3 separate regions of the Homo sapiens genome follow, and regions 2 and 3 are each reported to be linked to region 1. Evidence: microRNA targets listed by miRTarBase, many of them from high-throughput screens and not tested one by one. Region 1 holds a microRNA gene; each other region holds the end of a gene's coding sequence.
What was found. Region 1 holds the annotated microRNA hsa-miR-3126-3p (CAUCUGGCAUCCGUCACACAGA, at 3,235-3,256, shown strand). A microRNA usually pairs through its seed, bases 2 to 8, with sites in the 3' UTR of a target mRNA and lowers its output. Matches are read on the target gene's strand: a 7mer-m8 pairs with bases 2 to 8, a 7mer-A1 pairs with bases 2 to 7 and ends in A, and an 8mer does both.

Region 2: the mRNA of GRID1 is a reported target of hsa-miR-3126-3p. Seed matches in the 3' UTR shown: 7mer-A1 at 3,523-3,529.
Region 3: the mRNA of ALDH6A1 is a reported target of hsa-miR-3126-3p. Seed matches in the 3' UTR shown: 7mer-m8 at 2,770-2,776.

Annotation. Positions count from the first base shown.
Region 1 is chr2:69,100,493-69,105,109 of GRCh38, forward strand. It overlaps MIR3126 (microRNA 3126), which reads left to right and starts at 3,190; the gene lies at 3,190-3,263. It overlaps ANTXR1 (ANTXR cell adhesion molecule 1), which reads left to right. Exons shown (of 18, transcript NM_032208.3): 10 at 2,350-2,448.
Region 2 is chr10:85,598,401-85,602,697 of GRCh38, forward strand. It overlaps GRID1 (glutamate ionotropic receptor delta type subunit 1), which reads right to left. Exons shown (of 16, transcript NM_017551.3): 16 at 1,152-4,297. The coding sequence ends at 3,873. The region is part of intron 2 of GRID1-AS1 (GRID1 antisense RNA 1); the gene reads left to right. Among named protein-coding and RNA genes, the nearest start is that of GRID1-AS1, 23 kb to the left of the region's middle.
Region 3 is chr14:74,056,641-74,060,937 of GRCh38, forward strand. ALDH6A1 (aldehyde dehydrogenase 6 family member A1) reads right to left here. Exons shown (of 12, transcript NM_005589.4): 12 at 207-4,106. The coding sequence ends at 4,002. It overlaps BBOF1 (basal body orientation factor 1), which reads left to right. Exons shown (of 12, transcript NM_025057.3): 10 at 266-340; 11 at 504-618. Among named protein-coding and RNA genes, the nearest start is that of ALDH6A1, 26 kb to the right of the region's middle.

The sequences.
Region 1 (4,617 bases):
GTGGGGCCAAGCAGACATGCAGGCAGCCTCTTTTATAGAGGATTTAGCAACTCAACTGGTAATGTTAGAACATGGTGTTAGAGAATAGAGTTTGGCATGTGGCCTGCATTTCCACAGTCTTCTCTTCCTCTGCTGATCTTTGAGGAAACAAGAGAAGTAGGCACAGAAGTGAGGCAGAAAACATTTGGAATCAGCAAAAACATCAAACAACAGATGTCTGTATGTCTGGCATTCAAAATGGACACAGAAATAGGTTTCTATAGGCTTAACTGAGCAAATAAGAGAAGATAAGATTCTTCTACAAGTGCTTGACACGTACTAAATTGCTTATTGAGCCAACCAAGGAATCTGTCAGATGCCTGACAGACATCTAGAGAAAACTACTAAGCCCATCTTTCTAAACGTAGCAATTGTGCATTTGCATCAACGTGTATGTATAAATCCTTCATAGTCATAGGACTTATGCTCCTGAAAAAACCATAGGCCCGTCACCTTAGCTTTTGGATATGAGTCCCAGTTTTTCTGCTTTACTAATGACATGACTCTGAGCAAGTCATTCAAAATGTCACAGTCTCCATTTCCTTATTGTGAAGGCCTCTTATACTTCTAAAAAGCATTCTTTTCTAACTTATACTCCTTGTGGCACATGTAGTGTCTCTGTATTCTTTTACTTAAATTTCAGTTTCTTGCTTCACATCCAGGCCTGTTCCACTTTTCTGCAAAATGAGCAAACCTGCCTAAAATTAAAATAAAATAAGCTTTAAAAAAAATCACAACTTCAACTCCTAAATGACTCATCTGTCAGAAGGCAGTGAGTCCCCCTTTTCGCATGGTGGTTCAGAAGCTAATGGCTGAGTTCTAAGGGCATGGCATTTGGTGCCTAACAGACCTCGATTCCAGTTCTGATTCTGACAAGTTACCAGCTGTGTGATCTTGGACACATTACTTAACTTCACTAAGATCAGTTGTCTCATCTGTACCTCCCCAGGCTGTGGTGAGGTTTAAATGACATCAGACATGTACAATATTTCACAGAGGGCCTGGCTCACATTGAGGGAGCAATTAGCATTAGTTATTATTGTCTTGGCAAACATGGCCTCTAAATTAGTTTCCTGGGACTGAAGGTGGCATATACTCATGACATTTATTAAGCTTCGAGAGTCCCATATACTAATTCTCTAATTTCATTATTCCTCCAACAACAAGTCTACATTTAGATGGCAATGTACTGTGTAAGATCCATATTCACAAACATTGCATTTTTTCCTCTGACCTTCAGTCTATTTCTCTTGTGATATGCCACATAGCATTATCCCGAGCCCCAATTTTTAGATACAAAAGGATGATAAAAGTGAAATAAAGTGGAACACTGACCATTAGATACCAACAAACTTAAGCAAATATTCCCAAACATTTAGCCAACTAATTATTGGGTTTTTTCCATGGTAGGAGTATGGTAAAGGAGAGTTGTTTTTACTTAATAACGATTTTATTCATGTGCATTAATCAAACATACATTATGCCAATGAGAAATTAATATGCAGGCCAGGCAAGATATATGATCTCTTCTATGCAGAGACAAATGAGTACTACACTGAGGGGCTGATATCAATTCAAGTAGGTAGTGCTTGGCAACTGACCACTGCTAAGAAAGACTTTGATTCATTCCTAAGTACAATTATTCCTACCTAGCCTATGTACTGTTACTGTGTGCCCAGTAGAGATAGGAATGCCATAGTGGTATCAAACAACTCCTGACCTAAAGGAATGTTTCTCCAGCTGGGGAAGAAAAGACAAGAGAACACCACCAGACCATACATAATGACAGTCCTACATTGTTCAGGACTAGCTGTGAATGCCCTAAGGCAGTGACTTTCTAAAATGTAGGCACCGTGGGCTCTTAAGAAATCCTTTCAGGGGAGTACAATGTGCAAAACAGACACAGAGGAGGTGAGTTGATTAAAGAGGAAGTGGAGGACCCCTCCCCTGTGGCTCCCTCCGGCTACTGAGATCACAGATTTTCAAACTGCCTGGATTTGAAAACTGGCTAAGATTTGAATGGACAGAGAGGAGGGAGGAAGGTGTTCTGCGTTAGGAGGACCAGTAAGCCCAAAGGTAAAAGGGTGGGAATTCAAATAAGAAGTGATAGGCCCTTCTTGGGACACCTAGTGAGGATGCACTGGTAAGTAGTGAAAGGAACCCACCTGGTTGCTTTTGGTGTTCAACCTAAATTAATTTTTGAATATTTTAAGCCTGGTGAAATAGTGAACAAATGCTCTAAATCAGGGCAGATGCGAAGCTTAAGGTTATTGGCCAAGTAACGAGTCTCGTCATTATTCTTTATTTCAGAGTCATTTCAAGTTGTCGTGAGAGGAAACGGCTTCCGACATGCCCGCAACGTGGACAGGGTCCTCTGCAGCTTCAAGATCAATGACTCGGTCACACTCAGTAAGTCCTTGCAGAGTCCATGGGTTTCTTCGACAAGTGGCTTCAAGGAAGGGAATTCCCACCCTTGTCTTCCAGCAAGGCCACACACATGAAACCAGCAGAAAAGAGTCTTATTTGCTGGAAAGACCCCCAGCAAGGGCATAGTGAGCCCTTACAGTGGTTCCAGTCAGAAAAGGCACCACTTGGGTGGGCACAGCCCCATGGGTGTCCAGCTTGGTAAGCAGAGCAAGGCTGGACTTGAGTCCCCGTCCTCCACAAAACACAGAGCCACAAGCCCCAGCCCTGCAGCAGCCCTCCGGAAGCAGCGGGGCACTGGTTTCCTTGTCCCCTGCCATCTACCGAGTGGCTCACTCTCAGGTGGGAGTGCTGGTGATGGTTAATTAGGACTGCAGAAACATGAGCCTCCTTAACAAAGTATTGGGACTCTTAAGGGTAAGTGTGAAAAAGGAATGGTCTAAATGCATTAATCTTGAATAAACCGAAAACCAAACCATTAGGCTTGCACATGTAGATTCTGCAGCTTTTTTCAATCTGGATGATTCTTGCGTGGAGTAGCCAAGAAACTCTCATCGTGGTGAATATCTTACATGAAATACAGGAATATGGAGTAAAACTAAGTGCATTTCATGAGAAAAAATGAATTATCATAACATTGGCTTCTTCACAAGACATTTGTAGCAGTCAAGTTCCTAATTTAAAGATGTACGTGATTCATGTGGTTGACCAGGAGAGATGGGGAAGATGATTATATGAGGGACAGATGCCAGAAGCACTGGTTATGATTTGCATCTGGCATCCGTCACACAGATAATTATTTATTCCACATCTGCAGTGATAACTGTCATAATATACTGCATTTTCTGTAATGCTATGTACCTTCTAAATGCTTCACATCTTTTTGCTACAACAGCCCTGAGAGGTAAAGAGAGCAAGGAGGACAGGAGGACACACATTTGTTGACTAATCACTCACACTAGTTTTCTCCTCCTGATAGCCTATTTTTTTTTTTTTTTTGGAGACTGAGTTTTGCTTCTGTTGTCCAGGCTGGAGTACAATGGCACGATCTCAGCTCACTGCAACCTCCGCCTCCCAAGTTGAAGCGATTCTCCTGCCTCAGCCTCCTGAGTAGCTAGGATTACAGGTGTGCATCACTACACCCAGCTAATTTTTTGTATTTTTAGTAGAGATGGGTTTCATCATGTTGGCCAGGCTGGTCTCGAACTCCTGACCTCACATGATCCACCCGCCTCGGCTTCCCAAAGTGCTGGGATTACAGGTGTGAGCCACCACACCCAGCTCCTCATAGCCTTTTGAAGGAGGTTATCTTGTTTTTAAAGAAGAAGAATTGAAGGGCTATGGATATTTCCTTCTTGACATCATAAAACCCACTTTAGTAGTTAAACAGACACATGCTGTGTCTTCCTCACAAACATCTGGAATTCCTGGCCTTGGAGTAATTCCAAACATTAGAAACATTCGGTTAGTTTTCTTAATATTTGGAAATGCTCTCACAGATCCAAAAAGTACGTGCTATTTGAAAACATTCTGAAATATCCCTGAGTAGTCACAGTGTGAAAGTTGGACGTGTGCCCCCAGCAGAGTTCTTTCTTTTTTCTCCCTGTCAATTGTGATGTCACTTAAGTCCCCCTTTTCTCTTTAACCAAAATCCCAAGTCTAACATCAGAAACTCCTGAAGGTTTAACTCAAAGACATCAATACCTTCCAAAGAAGACTTCCCAAACAAGCAGGCTTTCAGGCCCAAGCTCTCTGAAGATACATGGAAGTGGGCTGGGGAGAGAGAGAATCTACCCTATGTGCCGTTGCTCAAAGGTTACACAAGATGCTGTATTAAATAAGATGTGGCCAGGCACGGTGGCTCACGCCTGTAATCCCAGCACTTTGGGAGGCTGAGGTGGGTGTATGGCCTGAGCTCAGGAGTTCGAGACCAGCCTGGGCAACATGGTGAAACCTTGTCTCTACCAAAAATACAAAAAATTAACTGGGCGTGGTGGTGCACACCTGTGGTCCCCAGCTACTCTGGAGCCTGAGGCTGAAGGATCACTTGAGGCCAGGAGGCAGAGGTTGCAGTGAACTGAGATCATGCCACTGCACTCCAGCCTGGGTGACAGAGTGAGACCCCATCCAAATAATAATAGGAAGAAGATGAAA
Region 2 (4,297 bases), not on the chromosome of region 1:
ATTAAATGGAATGACTTTTAAATGAAAACGCACAGGCCATAGACTGCGTCCCTCCATGTCCTCGTGGCCTTTAGGACCACTGGTCTTTTCTTCTTTAATGTGTCTGCTTCTCCTTTAGAACTTGAAAAGACAAACATTAGGTATGGAATTAGTTTTACCTTGGCACTATTCGGGGGATTTCTGATTTAGGAACTAGGCAGCTTCTTCTTAAGAAAACAGCCCTTTGTGGTTCCCTGCAGCTGCTCCTGTCCACCCATCTGCTCACAGAATCCAGCGGTGTCTGTTGCCCGCCCCTCAGCCCCAGTCTGAGGAGTGGCCCCAACGTGGAGAAGCCTGTCCTTGGTGCAGGGCAGAAGAACTAGGGCTGGGCATCCTCCTTTTGGTTTCTAGAAGAAGAAATTTTGATCATGTCAGACAGCCTCCTCAGATCAGCTTTACTGAGCTTGAGGCCGACAGCGGGGCTGTCCCCCACAAAGTCACTGAAGCCAGGGGACTTTTTCAGAGGTCGGCTGAAAAGCACACACATCTGGGGGTGGAAGATCAGGTTGATGGCTTGAGGCCTGTAGGATGACTGAGGGCATAAGATGTTCATTGGAGAAAGGTCTCCACAGATCCTGTAAGGGCCAAATTTTGAGAAGCCAAGCTGGGGGTCCAGCCAAGCTGTGCTCCACCAGGAATGACAGTCCCTTAGCTCTGAGACCTAAGCACAGGGAAGCAACTTATCTGAGGTCAGGGTGAGTGCAGAGATGAGAGTGGCAGCACAGTCAGCTGACAATTAAAGGGGTGTTCATTCCTCCAGGCCATGGGAGCACTTCTCTACGCATGATGATGACCCAGTTCTCTCCTAAGACACTTCCAAGAACGTAATATTTTAAAGAACACTGTTAGGTTAACCAAAAATTAGACTTGCTCCTCAGCCTGTCCCTCACACTGTCCCCTGGTTGGTTTCAGGGAACTCTGGATATGCACTGGGTGAGGAGGGCCTGCCCCCACCTCCAGGCATATCTGAGACCCCCTTGAGGAGAGGAGTTTTCCTCATGACTGTCCCTGCTGATAGCACAGAATTTACTTCATGATCTCAGCATGCCCAGAAACAAGCAGACAGTATTTCTTCACCCCAGAGAATAAGAGCATAGGGAGCAAAGACAAGATTTATTATTAAACAACTTTAATCCAAATGCTGATTATTATTTGCAGTGTCTGAAGGCACAAAATATACCTAAAATGTATGGAATAGTCTAAACAGAGTTATAAATCCAAAGAGCAAAGCATGAAAAAAAGATACATTCTGAGCTGACACAGAAATCTGAGTTGGGAAGTTTTTTTTTTTCCTAGAGAACTTGCTTGAATATCAATCATTTCCCCTCATGCCAAGGGTAGAAAATTCTAAAAAAAAAAAAAAATATATATATATATATATAAACATGGTGAAGAATAACACCATGAGGTGTTAAGGATTTTGTATAAGCAGAATACTTCTCTTGAAGATGCTGGTCTCTCTCTCTCTCTCTCTCTCTCTCACACACACACACACACACAAACACACACACACAGGCGCACAAACACATCCTCCATCTCCCTCTCTTTCCTCCTTGACACTCATTCTAAGCAGAACCATCCAAGAAGACATCCAAGCTATACCCCAGAAGACAGGCCATCTCAGGGGGCAATGAGGAAACAGAGTTGGTGTGAGATAAGGCAGTGAGACCAGAGTTTGATTAAAAAAATAGAGAGATATATATGTGAAAAATTGACCATTCAGGGCAGGGCCCCCAACGTGCTGATGGAAAACAAAGCCTGCTCTTCCTCGGGGTCATGGTAGCCCACCTAGGCTTCTCTGAGCATGCCTGGCTCCAAGGTCCACATGCTCTGATTGGAGAAATGTCAATGGATTGCCTAGGTAGCACGAATATCAGACCATTCTCAGCATCCAGCAATAAATAACATAATTATAAACACTCTCTTCCCCACAGTGCTTTTAGCTGACTGTGTGATTTGGCCGTTCTTTACTGCTCAATCATGTCACTAGGGACTTTAGGAAAGAAATCAATCCTGGGCTAGTTATCACCCTCATAAATACATCTCTCTAGAAACTCTACAAGGCTATAGAAGAAGCAATCAATAGGACTTTGTATTTCTCCATGATCACAGAACCAGGCTCTCAGCTCCCTGATTACTGCTGGCTGTGGGAGCTCCACCTCCTTCAGTGACAGATGTGGGCTGTGTATTCCATTCTGACGGGTCTGGAGATCAGACTAACCTTTGTCTTTAGGAGAGGAACTGAAGTGACACAACTCAGATTCCCCCAGTTCCACTCCTAATGGTTCTTTCCCTGATTCTGTAGTTTAGTTGCCTCAGAAAGGGCAACTGAAGGAGGGGGCGCTGTTAGGTGGTCCTAGGCTTAGAAAACTGGGCTTCCCTGCAGCTGTACCTGCACAGGGATAGGCCTGGAAATCTCAGAGGTTATCAGATGCCTGAGTGGGGAGGGCCCCTGCTCTGGGTTGGATTGCTGCTTGAAGAGGACTCCAGGTCTGGTCTGGAGAGGGTCGTAAAGGTGGAAGGGAGAGTTTGTGCTGGAGCCAGCCCTGTTTGTTGGACTGCCTGCAGGATTTATGACCCAGAGATAGGCCTTTACTTTTGGGGCTACAAGCAACTTCCCTGGTGGATGGGAGTTACACTTATGCTTCTCACCTAAGGCGCAAGGCAAGGCTTCCTCCTACCCAAATAAACATGGTCTCTTTTCTCTATTTCTCAGCATGCCCCATCACCTGGAGTACTGGTCCACCCACCTGGGCACCTCCCCCAACTCTTACTAACAGAGTCCGTTTGCCTGACACCACAAAGCTTCTACTCCCTGCATCTATGGCCTCACTTCCTTCTCTCACCTGGGACCATGGGTCCAAACCCAAGGGAATATTCTTCCTCTACCTGGCCTTTTGTTCCACCACCTCACCTGGTCCATGCAACTAACCCCACCTCGCAACTCCCTGCCCCCATGGACCTTCTTCCAGACCAACCCCACCTCCGCCCAGTCTCCCTGAGGAAACGATGGAGTCTGCCCTCCTTCCCCCAATATTCTATCACTTTTTGATTCTTCTAATTTTGAAAAGAAAATGAAAAACAAGGCCAACAGTATGATATGAGAACAGCTCAGTATCAAAGCCCTCAATTACCTCACTATGGGTAATTGTCAGCTTCTCTCGGGCCCATGGGGCAGAGGCACACTGCAACACACACAGCGGTGACTAACTCGTCCCGCAAGATCCAAGACAGGACAGGATAGCCCTGAGTCCAGGGCACCTCCTCAGCCCCAGGCTACCCAGAACAGCCGATCACCCTACAGCACAGCAACCCAGTGGGCCAGCCCAATGCGGGCTCCAAACTCACTCTTTATCAAGCTGAGGGACTAAAAGGGACGAGGTGCCAGGAGCAAAGAAATGGGGCAGCAAGCTGTGGGACAAGGCAGCGAGTGGCATGTGGGGTTCCTCGTCTTCCCTTCTCCCCCAGCAGAGAGGGGCTCCTTATCTGGTCGCCCCTCCTGCCCTCAGAAAGGCCCAGGAATGGGGGGGCTCCTTTGGCACTTCAGAATGATCACAAGTAATTTGCCTTTTTATTCATATAGAACAAAATTTACAAAGTCATTCATACAGTTTTTGTGTTTTTTTACTGACTTCGAAAATTGGGAATATTCAAAATACACTTTTACCCCACTCCATTCTGTCATTATTTACACATATGTACAAGAAAAATGAAAGAGTCTCTGTGTATGTGTGTGTGTGCGAGTGTGTGTGGTTTGTGTTGTTGTTTTCTTGTATTAAAAAGCTCTGCTGGTCGGGTGGGTGGGAGGGTGGGCAGGAGGGCAGGCGGCGCAGTCAGATGGAGGTCCCGTGGGAGGTGTCCAGAGCCTCTGGAAGGACGCCTCCAGGCACGGGCTGGAAGGACATGGGGATGGGGGTCTTCACCGGGCTCTGCCGGAACAGCCCCCCGTTGGGTGACCTGTGTTTGCACTGCATGGAGGGCATGGTCGCCGAGCTGCTCAGCGGCAGCGGCAGGTTGCTGCTGGGCCCTGATGAGAGTGTCCGGCTGGTGCCATGGCTGCTCTGCTCTGGCAGAAAGGTGCTGACCGAGAGCTGGGTGTTCTGGTACTCCCGTGTCGGCTCCAAGGTCTGGGTGGGAGCCAGGCCCCCCATCTCCAGGGCCGAGAGCTCAATCGACGCTGGGGAAATCTGCTTGTGAGCAATGTCTTCATCCATGAGGCTGTTCATGCGCCGGTGGACCTGCTCCAAGTTCACTTCTT
Region 3 (4,297 bases), not on the chromosome of region 1:
TACATTTTAAAATAACTAAAAGAGTGTAATTGGATTGTAACACAAGGGATAAATACTTGAAGGGATGGATACTTCATTCTCTATGATGTGATTATTTCACATTGCATGCCTGTATCAAAACATCTCACGTACCCCACAAATACGTATACCTACTATCACCCACAAAAATAAAAAATAAAAAAAAATTAAAATACAAAAAGAAAATATGAAGGCATGAGGAGACACTGCCTCATTCATTATCTTTGTTGACTTTTACCCACTACAGGAAATACAACCAGAGTTCTAGGCCTCCAGTTCCAGACTATGTTGTTTCTGACAGTGGGGAAACAAAGGAATTTGGGTAAGAGCTCTCTTGCTTAAGTAATAAACATGAGCCCAACACGATGGTTCTTGTGGGCATCTTGAATGTGCTAATTGAAAGTAATATGACAAGTCTGTTATTCTAAACCAGGTTTCATGTGTGTAGAGTTGTTGACGGTTCTGTTATTTTGTCATTATTGCAGGGATGAAAGTAAGCTTCAAGATAAAATCTTCATCACCCAGCAAATTGCAATATCAGACTCTTCTGGTGAAGTGGTGCTACCCACTATTCCAAAAGAACCTCAGGAGTCTGACACAGTAAGGAGTCTGTATCTAATCAAACAATGTATATTGTTGTCACCCTTCCCCATGTCGCTTCTTGCTAAATCACGGTTATTTTCTCTACTAGTTGAGAGACTTCAGGGATCAGTGGAATGAGTAATAAATAGCATTAGTAGATTACATAAATTTTTAAAGCAATATCCGTACAAATGCATATTATACTAATGCAAATGCAAATGTGTGCCTCTTTTTGTGTAGAAACCTATAGGTTGCCTTTTGAAGTAAACAGCCTAGCCAAAATGTGTACTATCTTTTACGTAAGAGTAAACATAGTGACCTTGTGACTCTTAGCTTTCCATCACAGGTGGGAAGTCAGAGTCATTACAACCTAGAGGACAAAGGCTTATAAGGAGATATGAAATGATTTTTTTAAGCCAAGTTTTTCTCTTTAAGAGTTTTTAATTTATAATTTGTTATTCATAATTAGTACAATGTAGAATCTGAGAAATTTCAAATGAAGCCACATTAGAACAAAAAGAAAATACTGACTTTTTAGCCGCGATCACATGAATATAACTGATGAGTTTTTTTCATCTAAGAAATAAGAAACTCTGAGCAGCAAATAGTTGGCCAGATGAGTTGTTTCTAATTAGAGCATCACAGTTCTGATTAGTGTGTTTTTTTAGAAGTGATTTCCCTTAAATATAAGGAAAATGTTAGGAATCTCTGTGACTACATTTAATTCCACTTGGAATATAGACAATAATGACCTTTTATTTAACCCAGCCTATAGTTGTTGGATTGGATTAAATATCACTACCAGGGCCAGGTGCGGTGGTTCACGCCTGTAATCCCAGCACTTTGGGAGGCCGAGGTGGGCGGATCATTAGGTCAGGAGATTGAGACCATCCTGGCTAACATGGTGAAACCCTGTCTCTACTAAAAGTACAAAAAATTATCCGGGTGTGGGGGCATGCACCTGTAATCCCAGCTACTCGGGAGACTGAGGCAGGAGAATTACTTGAACCCAGGAGGTGGAGGTTGCAGTGAGCCGAGATCGTGCCACTGCACTCCACCCTGGGCAACAGAGCGAGACTCCATCTCAAAACAAAACAAAACAACAACAAAAAAAATCACTACCAGTTGCCAGCTGTGATAAGAGCTAAAACAAGGGGTACTGTAGTCTCAAATTATAAATTTCTATTGCCTCATATTTAGGAAAGCAGAAAAAAAAAAAAAAAAGGCCCAGTAGGATCATAAGTGTATTTTACAAAAGTTCCAGTCACCTTAAGTGATTGAAGGTTTTGACATTTTATCCAGCCAGGTGGTAGTAATAAGCCTCAAATCCACAGGGTACACAACATTTTCAAGGTCTTTTTTTTTTTTATCATACTTAATTCATGAATAACCCCCATAGTGTAGGTTAGTTAGCACTATCAAAGTGACTGGTAAGGACGCAGGAAAATAAAAAGAGGATTCAATTGGATTGGTACTGCAAAAAGAATCCATTCTGTTCAGCACATGAATTTCTGTTCTGACCTTAAGTTTAGATATATCAAAGAAACAAAAAGCATAGAGGCGGCTGGGGGTGGTGGCTCACACCTGTAATCCCAGCACTTTGGGAGGCCAAGGCAGGCAGATCACCTGAGGTCGGGAGTTCGAGACCAGCCTGACCAACATGGAGAAACCCTGTCTCTACTAAAAATACAAAATTAGCCAGGCATGGTGGCGTATGCCTGAAATCCCAGCTACTCAGGAGGCTGAGGCAGGAGAATTGCTTGAACCCGGGAGGCAGAGGTTGCAGTGAGCCAAGATCACGCCATTGCACTCTAGCCTGGGCAACAAGAGTGAAACTCCATCTCAAAAAAAAAAAAAAAAAAAAAAGCGTAAAGGCAGTTGAACTAATGGCAGAAGAAGACTGTCAAAGCATTTTTTTTTAACCACTTTATGTCATGGAAAGCTTCGAAATTTCTTAGGCCCAGTTAATTGCTCTACATGAAGAGTTCTTCATTAAACAAATCACTAATTAGAAATACAGGCAAGAGAAAAGAATATATAAAATTTGGCAAGTAATAGCAGGTTAGATTTGCTTAAGGCAGGTGTCTTACCCATTTTCATGGTTGGAACAATCCTTGATTTCTGGGCCTAAAATAACTTTTGAAATAATTTTCTAAGAAAATTATTTGCATCTGGCTGGGTGTGGTGGCTCATGCCTGTAATCCCAGCACTTTGGGAGGCCGAGGCAGGCGGATCACCTGAGGTCAGGAGTTCGAGACCAGCCTGACCAACACGGAGAAACCCCGTCTCTACTAAAAATACAAAATTAGCTGGGTGTGGTGGCGCATGCCTGTAATCCCAGCTACTAGGGGGGCTGAGGCAGGAGAATCGCTTGAACCTGGGAGGCGGAGGTTGCGGTGAGCTGAGATCACGCCATTGCACTCCAGCCTGGGCAACAAGAGTGAAACTCCATCTCAAAAAAAAGAAAAAAGAAAATTATTTGCATCTGAATTAATGGCTGAAGTATTAATTAATGATTGCTGAAGAGAACCCTGAAACTTAGTACTTGGCACATATAACAAAAAGTTGATTTATCCATTGCTTACTGAGGTATCCTTGAGAAGTGATCTTAAGCAGGAGCAGTGACAATGATAGAATTAATAGTGGTCATGAATTACTAGGAAACAAAGTGGCATTGAGCAGAAAAGAAAGAAGCTGTTGCCACAACTTTGGGATATATAAAAATGGATTATATCTTGTGTATTGTGGGATAAAAGAGGGGCTAAAGAAAACTTTGCAGGAGGTCTCTCCCAGTGGCATTTAGGTAGCGCTATGTTTGAGGATCAACCAAAAGCGGTGAGTTATTTCTGTCCTGTTTCCCCATCTAAGAGTTCTTCTTGCAATTATTGGAACATCTTCTTTAAAAAATTTTTTTTCCCTTTTCTTTTTTTACTTTTTCAATTTTTTTAAATAATAGATACGGGGTTTCGCCACGTTCTTCAACTCCTGGGCTCAAGCAATCTGCCCACTGTGGCCTCCCAAAATGATGGAATTACAGGCGTGAGCCACCGCGCCTGGCTGGAACATTTTCTTTACATACACTGGCTTTTCTCCCCTTCAAATCATCAGAAAATGGGATAATTTTTAGAAATCAGGTTTAAGCACTACTTTCAGATAAGCATTTCATAGTTACAACAGTTACCTCAAAATAGAAGTATGAAGAGCAAGTGAGAAATCTGGTTTCATTGTTACACTAGGCAGTTCCCTATAGAAACTTTGCGGGGGTTAATAGTCCTGAGGAAGATTTTAGTTACAATGTATTCCAATCCCATCGATCTGATCTGAGCAAAGCTGACAAATGAAGCTGGTCAAAAATAAAGGGAGATTACTCAGGATGGAGTCAGTCTTAAACAAACTTGTTTCTAACGGCCCATGGTAGGCATGACAACAGCAGGTGAGGAAAGAGTAGCATCTTCTTCTTTCCACTGAGAAGTAATGGTCTTTAACTGAGTGTAGAATTGGATGCCCTAAGGAAAACAGAAAAAAAGTTAGCATATATTTCTGGGGTTTCATGATTCTTCTTTTAATTAGCTTTTGAAGGAGGTATTATAAAGTGCTACTCACTTTCCTAATTGAGAAATGCAATCAGAATCCAATATATATTGTTCCTAAGATAATTGATCTAAAACATTTAACATAATACCTGGCAGATAGTAAA